Regions from separate parts of the Homo sapiens genome. Here region 2 is linked to region 1. Evidence: fine-mapped expression QTL. A gene starts in region 1. The other region holds a variant in brackets. All regions are shown on one strand. Distances are from middle to middle.

Region 1 (4,383 bases):
TGGGTGTAGGAGTTGGCTGGCAGCCAGGGGTACCTCTTGTCTGTGAGACAGTCCACATACTCCTTCAGCTTTTCCTCAAGGTCTTCCTGCTGGCCCTGCTCATCCACGACATCCCCCCCTGCAAGGCCACCTGGTCAGCACCGCTTCTTGTCCTCAGCCCATGGAGCCCTCACCAAGCCCCTGTCAAACTTCCACCCGCTCTCACCAAGGCTGTCCTCTGCAGTGGTGCTGAGAAGGCTGGGGCATTCACTGGCGGTGCTGCGGGCCTCACTGGCTGCCTCATCGTCACTGGAACCCGAGTCAGCTTGGGCACTGCTCCGGGCACCTGGAGAAGGTGGAATAGGACACTCAACTTGCCTCTACTGATGAGGGATGGCTGGGGGTACCTCACTCGACCTCATAATCCCAAAAGATAGAATGGTGTCCCTCTCAGAGATGAAAAACCAAAGCCAAGGGTCAGTTCAGTAGGGCTGGTGCACTCCTGTGTGTGGGGTCTGTCCAGGGCCAAGGGCTGACATTGGCAAGGTTGGCTGCTGTGGCAGAGTTTTGGACAGGGTGTGATCACCAGGCTGGCCCTACTTCTAAGAACTACTCACACCCCTCATCTGCAGGACAAAGTCCAGCCTGCGCACTGGCCTCTGCTCCCCGCCACCTTTTTTTTTTTTTTTTTTTTTTGAGACAGAGTTTTGCTCTTGTTGCCCAGGCTGGAGTGCAATGACGCCATCTCGGCTCACTGCGACCTCTGCCTCCCGGGTTCCAGTGATTCTCCTGCCTCAGCCTCCCGAGTAGCTGGGATTACAGGCATACGACACCACACCCAGCTAATTTTGTATTTTTAGTAGATAGGGTTTCTCCATGTTGGTCAGGCTGGTCTCGAACTCCTGGCCTCAGGTGATCTGCCTGCCTTGGCCTCCCAAAGTGCTGGGATTACAGGTGTGAGCCACCACGCCCAGCCTGCTCCCATTTTATCTTACTATTCTACCTGCCGGAGCAGCCCAGCCTTCCCTCATTCACTCCACTGCGCTGGGGTCCCTCCAGCTGCCAGGTCTTTGTACAACTTGCTCTCTTCTCCATCCTCTCAGGACTCACCCAGAAGCACTTCCCCCCAGGCCTCCCTGAGTCCTAAGTCTGGGGCTGACACCACTCAGTGAACATGTTCCACACCCTATTAGATGTCCCCCACCCAAAACCCACCATGGTGGTGACCAGTTTAAAGTTGTGCCTAGGTATTTTCCTCCTTCCTGTGCCCGGCCCTCCTCCCTTCCCCCTCAAGAATAAAAATAAATAAATTTGTGCGTGGTAGGCACCCCATCCCAGCAGAGTAAACATATGTGTTTAACGCATTAAGATAGGCTCCTGGTCTAAGCTGATAAGCGAGTCCCAAGACTGCCTCAGGCTCCAGGATACTCAGCTACCTTGTGGAGTCAGGCCTGCCAAGCTGCCAAGGCCCTAACCAGGTAGCTTCCCAACAGAGCCCCCTCCCTCTCTTCACCGGAGCAGGCCAGGACTCCCGCCAACTTCCTTGACCAGTCCAGGAAAGGATCAGGGTTTGGCAAGAGGACTGGCTTCCTGCCCTGTCCGGTGAGTTTGTCCACCCAGCAGGCAACTGAGGCCCGGAGGGGCTGGCCGGGTCACCGCTGGGAGCGCGGACTCCCAACAGGCAGTGGGCAGCGAGCTCAAGTTGGGCACGCACGTGGCCAATGACTGCTGGGGCACGTGCCAGCCTCGGTAGAGTTATGGGAAGCTGCGTGGGGCTGGCCGAGGGGGTTCCCCACCCAGGGCCCTCGAGAACAACCAAGGGGATCCAGCAGGACCCCCGCCCGCCGCTCATACAGCTGTCCCGCGCCCCCCACCCCACTCACCTCCTCCACGGCGCTGACCACCCTTCCGGAGCGTGTTGCCCTTACGGGCGCGAGGCATGCCGGGAACCGGGCGCGGGGGGCGCGGGGTCAGGGACCCGGTGGGTGTGGGCTCCAGGCCAACGAGACGCCGGCCGGTGCGCTGCGCTGAGACTTGGCCAGACGACGGGAGCCACACGCCACGCGCGCCACCATCTTCGCGAGGCGCCCCGCCCTGCCAAACAGGTCGCCGGGAAGGCGAGTTCCAGGCCATCCGATTCAGGCCCACATCCACGAGGCTAAAACTACTAATCCCAGAGGCCTGAGCGCGCAGGCGACGGCGGCTAGCTGCGCGTAGAGCACCATGGGAATGGTAGTCCACGCCTGGGGCCCACCAGCCGACGACGCGCTGGCTGAACTATGCACCCACAATGCCCTGCGCGCGCCCCAGCCCCGCGTCGGGAACAAGTGCACGGTGGTTAACTCCGAAGCGTCCCTCAGTGGAGCACCAAGGCAGGACTGGCTTCTCAGGGCACTTGGCAGCGGGACACTCCAGACGAGACCTACCCCTGCCTGGGTCTGGGGACCATGGGAAGGGCTTAGAGCTTGGGATAACAGGAGCAACAGCCAAACCTCAGGCAGTGGAAAAAAGTGACTTTATGATGAAAGAGTGCAGACAACAGCTTAGCACTTTACCGACCTTCGCCAAGATTTTTTGGGGCCCATCTGCCCGTGCACGGCCCATCTGTGACCTCTCCATGGGCTTAGTGAGGTGTAGGCACAAAGCCCTAGGCTGGCAGCCCTAACTAGCTGGAACCTGACTCTCCCTGGAACTGCTTCCTTGCCATGGAGGACTCACATGATCTCAGAGGGCCTCTGGTTTTATAAGCGTTTTTTCTGGCCCCTTCTACCCCTCAGGGATTCCAAGGGAAGCGGGGTGTGTGCTTGGGAGGGTTGACTGTAAACTGAATAGAGCAAGAGTGGGACAGAGTAGTTCCAGGACTGGAAAAGTGGCAGCAGGGAAAAGAAGAGGCAGTGGCAGGGGCCCTGGCTTTATACTGCTTCTTTAGGCCCAGGCCTGGGCTCCTGGCAGGTGGGGCCAGCCCAGCCCCAGTAACAGTGGCAGCTGAAGGACTTCCAATCTCCAAGGCTGCCGTCTGGCCACAGGTGTAGAAAGGCTTCCATCTGTCCTGGATCTCGCCGGGCACAGCGCCCGTGGCCATGGCACCGCTGGTGACTGCAGGCCATCGCTGCCCTGGTCACATTGATCACATAGGGGCCCAAGGTGTCCACCAGGTAGTCATGGAGATGCCAGCACTCCTCCTGAGGAGAAGGGAAGATATGTGTCAATATGCCTGCTCTATAATCTTGACATGGCCGTCCCCCACCCTGGGACCCCAGCATGTGCTACATGGCAGGCTCAAAGGGGCAATGATCACCTCAGAGCTGGAGAGGCTCAGGTCCCCCCAGAGCACCACGCCGGCTGCCCCTAGTGCTGCACTCACACCAATGGACTGCACAAGGTCATCCTGGAGGCAGAGAGCTGCTAAGCCAGTGCTGGGCTGGCCAGATCCATGTGGGCACACATCCACATTCAAGAAACTCTTCTGGTTCACTGTCACAATCTGATTCTAACTCTACAGTAGGGACTCTCTAGTTTGGTTTGGTTTTAGAGGCGGGGTTTTACTCTGTCATCCAGGCTGGAGTGCAGTGGCATGATCATAGCTCACTGCAGCCTTGAACTCCTGGGATCAAGTAATCCTCCCACCTCAGCCTCCCAAGCAGCTGGGACTACAGGTGCATAACACCTGGCTAATAATTTTTTAGGCTGGGCACAGTGGCTCACACCTGTAATCCCACACTTTGGGAGGCAAAAGCGGGAGAATCACTTGAGCCCAGGAGTTCAATACCAGCCTGGGCAACATGACAAAACCCCATCTCTACAAAAATATAAAAATTAGCTGGGTGTGGTGGTATGCATCTGTAGTCCAGCTATTCGGGAGGAGGCTTAGGTGGGAGGATCACTAGAACCAGGAAGTGAAGGCCGCAGTGAGCTGAGATGGTGCCACTGCACTCCAGCCTGGGCAACAGAGCAAGACTCTGTCTCAAATGTTTTTTTGGTAGAGGTTGGGGTCTCACTATGTTGCCCAGGCTGGTCTCGAACTCTTGGCCTCAAGGAATCCTTCCATCTCAGGCTCCCAAAGTACTGGGATTATAGGTGTGAGACACTCACCCAGCCCAAGTAGGGCCCCTTTGTATCGAGTCTCTGAGTGGCTTCTCAGGCCTTCCACTCAGAATATCTCCCCTCAGGCCAGCACTCCAAAGGCTGGGCCTCCCTACCCCTCAACATCTTCCAGGGCAAAGCCATGCCTCCCTCATCAGATGCTCCAGGACAGGGCCTTCCGCTGAGAACGCCTAGATTAGGACCAACCCCTAGGCAAGGTCTTCTCCTGGGACCTTCCTAGAACAGGGCCATACCTCCTGACTCAGACCCCTAGACCTCAGCTTCCACTTACCTGGGACAGGAACCTCCCAGATCTCCGGT
Region 2 (4,383 bases), 22 kb after region 1:
GAGGCTGCAATCTCGGCACTTTGGGAGGCCAAGGCAGGCTGCTGGGAGGTGGATGTTGTAGCGAGCCGAGATCACGCCACTGCACTCCAGCCTGGGCACCATTGAGAGACTCCGTCTGCAATCCCAGCACCTCGGGAGGCCGAGGCTGGCAGATCACTCACGGTTAGGAGCTGGAGACCAGCCCGGCCAACACAGCGAAACCCCGTCTCCACCCAAAAAATACGAAAACCAGTCAGGCGTGGCGGCGCGTGCCTGCAATCGCAGGCACTCGGCAGGCTGAGGCAGGAGAATCAGGCAGGGAGGTTGCAGTGAGCCGAGATGGCAGCAGTACAGTCCAGCTTCCGCTCGGCATCAGAGGGAGACCGTGGAGGGAGAGGGGGAGGGGGAGGGGGAGGGGAGGGGGAGGGGGAGGGGGAGCCACTGCAATCGGCCACTGTGGTTTCTTTTTTTTTTTTTTTTGAGATGGAGTCTCGCTCTGTCACCCAGGCTGGAGTGCAGTGGCGCGATCTCAGCTCACTGCAACTTATGCCTCCCAGGTTCAAGCAATTCTCCTGCCTCAGCCTCCCGAGTAGCTGGGACTACAGGCGCTTGCTACCATGCCTGGCTAATTTTTGTATTTTTAGTAGAGACAGGGTTTCACCATATTGACCAGGCTGGTCTCGAACTCCTGACCTTGTGATCCGGCCGCCTCGGCCTCTCGAAGTGCTGGGATTACAGGCGTTAGTCACTGCGCCCGGCCCTAGCTGTGGTTTCTTAAAAGCGTGTCAACTAAAGTCAGACAACTTACACTTCAGAAGAAAGTAACAGTAACCTGTTTATGTACATACATAAGCCACTTTCATACCTGCCTACCAATGTATGGACTTCAGAGTAATGTGGCCTATATTTTCCCAGGATTTTTTTTTTTTTTTTTTTTGAGATGGAGTTTCACTCTTGTTGCCCAGGCTGGAGTGCAATGGCGCAATGTCAGGTTGCTGCAACCTCCGCCTCCTGGGTTCAAGTGATTCTCCTGTCTCAGCCTCCTGAGTAGCTGGGATTACAGGCATGAGCCACCATGCCTGGCTAGTTTTTTGTATTTTCAGTAGAGACAGAGTTTCTCCATGTTGGTCAGGCTGTTCTCGAACTCCCAACCGCAGGTGATCCACCCGCCTCAGCCTCCCAAATTGTTGGGATTACAGGCATGAGCCACCCCGCCAGGGCTGGGATTGTTCTTTTGCTGTTTTTTTTTTCTCTTCCTTCCTTCTCCCTATTTTCTCTTCACACTGCATGAGACTTTACAACCTGCTAAAAATGAGCTTTCCGGACCTACTTATCTAGCAATGAGAGATCAGATGAAACCTGAGACCAGATACTCATTTTCTTGCAAAATGCTTTCTCCAAAAGATTTTGAAAAAGAAAATGGGGTAAATGTGAAAGGAAAGTATCTTGGGCCTCTTCAAGCTGGGAACTGCTCAGGACAAATCTGCCTCCCATTCTATTCAAGTCATCCTTTTGCTCACAGAGATAGATGCATATTCTGATTGCCTCCTTTGGAAAGACTTACCAGAAACTCAAAAGAATGCAACCATCTGTCTCTCACCTATCTGTGACCTGGAAGCCCCCAGTGCTTTGAGCCTGGGAGCCTTGATTTGAGCAGTCTCCACCTTTCTTTCTGGAACTAATGTACTTCTTACATATTGATTAATGTCTCATGTCTCCCTAAAATCTATAAAACCAAGCTGTGCCCCAACCGCCCTGGGCACATGTCCTCAGGACTTCCTGAGGCTGTGTCACCAGCAAGTCCTCAACCTCGGCAAAATAAACTTTCTAAGTTAACTGAGACCTTTGTCAGATTTTCTGGGTTCACAGCTGATTCAGAAGCTGGTTATTGACACCTGCTAGGTGCTTGGGCCCAGCCTTGCCTGCCAGAGTAGGTTGAAGGAAACACCATGTCCCTGCCCAAGTGAAAGTGCTACCTGGATCTGAGTCAAGTCTGAGACTGAGCCACTGTAGCCAGGCCACCCCTGGCACGGTGGCCACTGAAGCAACGAAACTCACAGTTAACTACCATCTGGGTTGGGTCCTACAGGCTGCCTGGGATAGAAAAGCTGGCAGGGCTGAGGGAAAGAAGGGCCCAGGATGCTGGGGACAGCATGAGACTTGTACACAAGATCAAGCCCCAGAAGTGGTGACTGCTGATCCAGTTCAGGAAGCAGGGTCCCAGAGTGATGACCATGTAGGCCCAGAGAGCCTGGCACAACTCTTGAGGGCTGAGGGAACAGAACATCAAGGCAACCCCTGGCCCCCCTCCTCAAGGATTCATGCCACCTCCTGGTGCCCCCAGAAACCTAGTGCTGCAGTTGGCCCAATCCAGGTAACCACCAGGCCAGCATTCTCCAGCTGGCCTCAGTCCAAGGGAGAAGCTCTAATGGTGGAACCATAGGAAGAA[T/G]CTGAGGGTGCCTGAAATCCTCCTCCACCCCAGGGCCCTGCCCACAGGCCTGCTCCTACTGGGCTGGTCCAGTAGGATTGGCTCAAATGGTGTGTGTGTGCGCATATGTCTGGGGTCCATCAGCTTGATGGTCCAGTCCCGCCTGCTGTCTCCGGTTGTTCAACACTTCAGATCTCTGAGCCGCATCACTCCCCATTACCTTATTCCTACCCACTCCCCGCTTTCCCCACAGGACAGTGCTGGCTCTCCCTGAGTTGCACTTTCCCTAGGACCATCTTTTAGGTCCTCCGGGGGAAGAAATGTGAGGTTCATAAAGGTTTATATGGAGGGGGTCACAGCTCGATGGGTACTGGTCACAGCTATGCAGGAGAGGTCACAGTTGCGGAGGAGTCAGTTATTTGGAGACGGTAACAGCTGTATGGGGTCACACATGGGAGGGGTTACAGGTATGTAGGGGTCATAGCTAGGTGGGAAAGGTCACAGTGGTGTGGTCTGGATCACCTCTGTGTGTTGGGTGTGGGTGGGGTAGCTCAGAGGTATGCATGGGTCACATCTGTGTGGGGGAGGTCACAGGTGCAGGAAGTCACAGGTATGGGGGACAGGCCACAGCTCCTTTCTCCTTTCCTGCTGTCCTTTTGCTAAGTGCCATCATCTTATTGTGGCAACTTTTTTTTTGAGACAGAGTCTTGCTCTGTCACCCAGGCTGGAGTTCAGTGGCCCATTCTCCGCTCACTGCAACCTCCTGGGGTCAAGTGATTCTTGTGTTTCAGCTGCCCAAGCAGCTAGGACTACAGGTGTGCACCAACAAACCCAGCTAATTTTTTTTTTTTTTTTTGAGACAGAGTCTCACTCTGTCGCCCAGGCTGGAGCGCAGTGGTGTGATCTTGGCTCACTGCAACCTCCACCTCCCGGGTTCAAGCGATTCTCCTGCCTCAGCCTTCTGAGTAGCTGGGATTACAAGCAGGCACCACCATACCCGGCTAATTTTTTATTTTCAGTAGAGATGGGGTTCACCACGTTGGTCAGGCTGGTCTCTAATTCCTGACCTTGTGATCTGTCCGCCTCGGCCTCCCAAAGTGCTGGGATTAGAGGCGTGAACCACCAGGCCCGGATGCCCAGCTAATTTTTGTATTTTTAGTAGAGACAGGGTTTCAGCATGTTGGCCAGGCTGGTCTCAAACTCCTGGCCTCAAGTGATCCACCTGCCTTGGCCTCCCAAAGTGCTGGGATTACAGGGGTGAGCCACCGCACCCGGCCCATCATTTTATTGACCAACACCTGAATCTTCTCTCCAGCCTGGCCTCCCCCCACCATGGCCATGAGCACCTGGGACCCCTCCACTTGTATGTGCACCTCCTCCTTCACTGTGTGAATTTACCACGTCACCTTTCCAGTGTTACCACCTCACTCTCTCCTCTCCATTCTCTACCCATCACCGGCGAAAGAGGTGAGGGAAGGATATCTTTACAGCCTGGGTTGGCACTGGCTTGGCCGGGCTTGTTTCTCCCATCTGGCATCTCGGTCTTTGCATCTAGTGTGCATCTACCTCTATTTTGTCACTCCCACAAGGACGGGGGTCTTTGTTGGTGTGGTTCATAGATGCATCATCGATGCATCCCCAGCACCTAGCCCAGCACAGGCACACTGTGTGCTCAGCGTTTACTGAATGAGTAAGTCAGTATTAGGTGAAGTCAGGCCTGGTGCTGCTCTAGGGCTGCCCCTCCTGCCTCTGCCCACAGCAGCCACTAAGCCACACCCCAGCCCTGAACTGTTCACCTTCACCACCTCCAACTTCCTCCAGCCTCTGCCCAGGATTTGTTCCTGAGCATCGAGCTGCCGCCCTCACCTTTTAGAACCCAATGTGGGAAGCATCTCCAAGGGCACCACCCCTGCTCCCCTGCTGCTGGCTGCCCTCACCACTCAACGGCTTCTTGAGTCTGTCTCCCCAGAGCCAGA

The links. PIP is the estimated chance that this variant, and not a neighbour inherited with it, causes the effect.
Region 2: its variant is the best candidate, but not a certain one, in a credible set for the expression of IFRD2 in skeletal muscle (GTEx, PIP 0.58).

Annotation. Positions count from the first base shown.
Region 1 is chr3:50,290,355-50,294,737 of GRCh38, forward strand. IFRD2 (interferon related developmental regulator 2) reads right to left here and starts at 2,075. Exons shown (of 12, transcript NM_006764.5): 1 at 1,863-2,075; 2 at 206-325; 3 at 34-118. The coding sequence starts at 1,920. HYAL3 (hyaluronidase 3) reads right to left here. Exons shown (of 4, transcript NM_003549.4): 2 at 4,355-4,383; 3 at 3,278-3,367; 4 at 2,478-3,161. The coding sequence ends at 2,892. RefSeq lists a silencer at 1,784-1,993 and enhancers at 2,374-2,563, 2,954-3,509.
Region 2 is chr3:50,312,599-50,316,981 of GRCh38, forward strand. No RefSeq gene overlaps it. Among named protein-coding and RNA genes, the nearest start is that of HYAL2, 8.0 kb to the right of the region's middle. The variant T/G (reference allele first, on the strand shown) is at 2,429.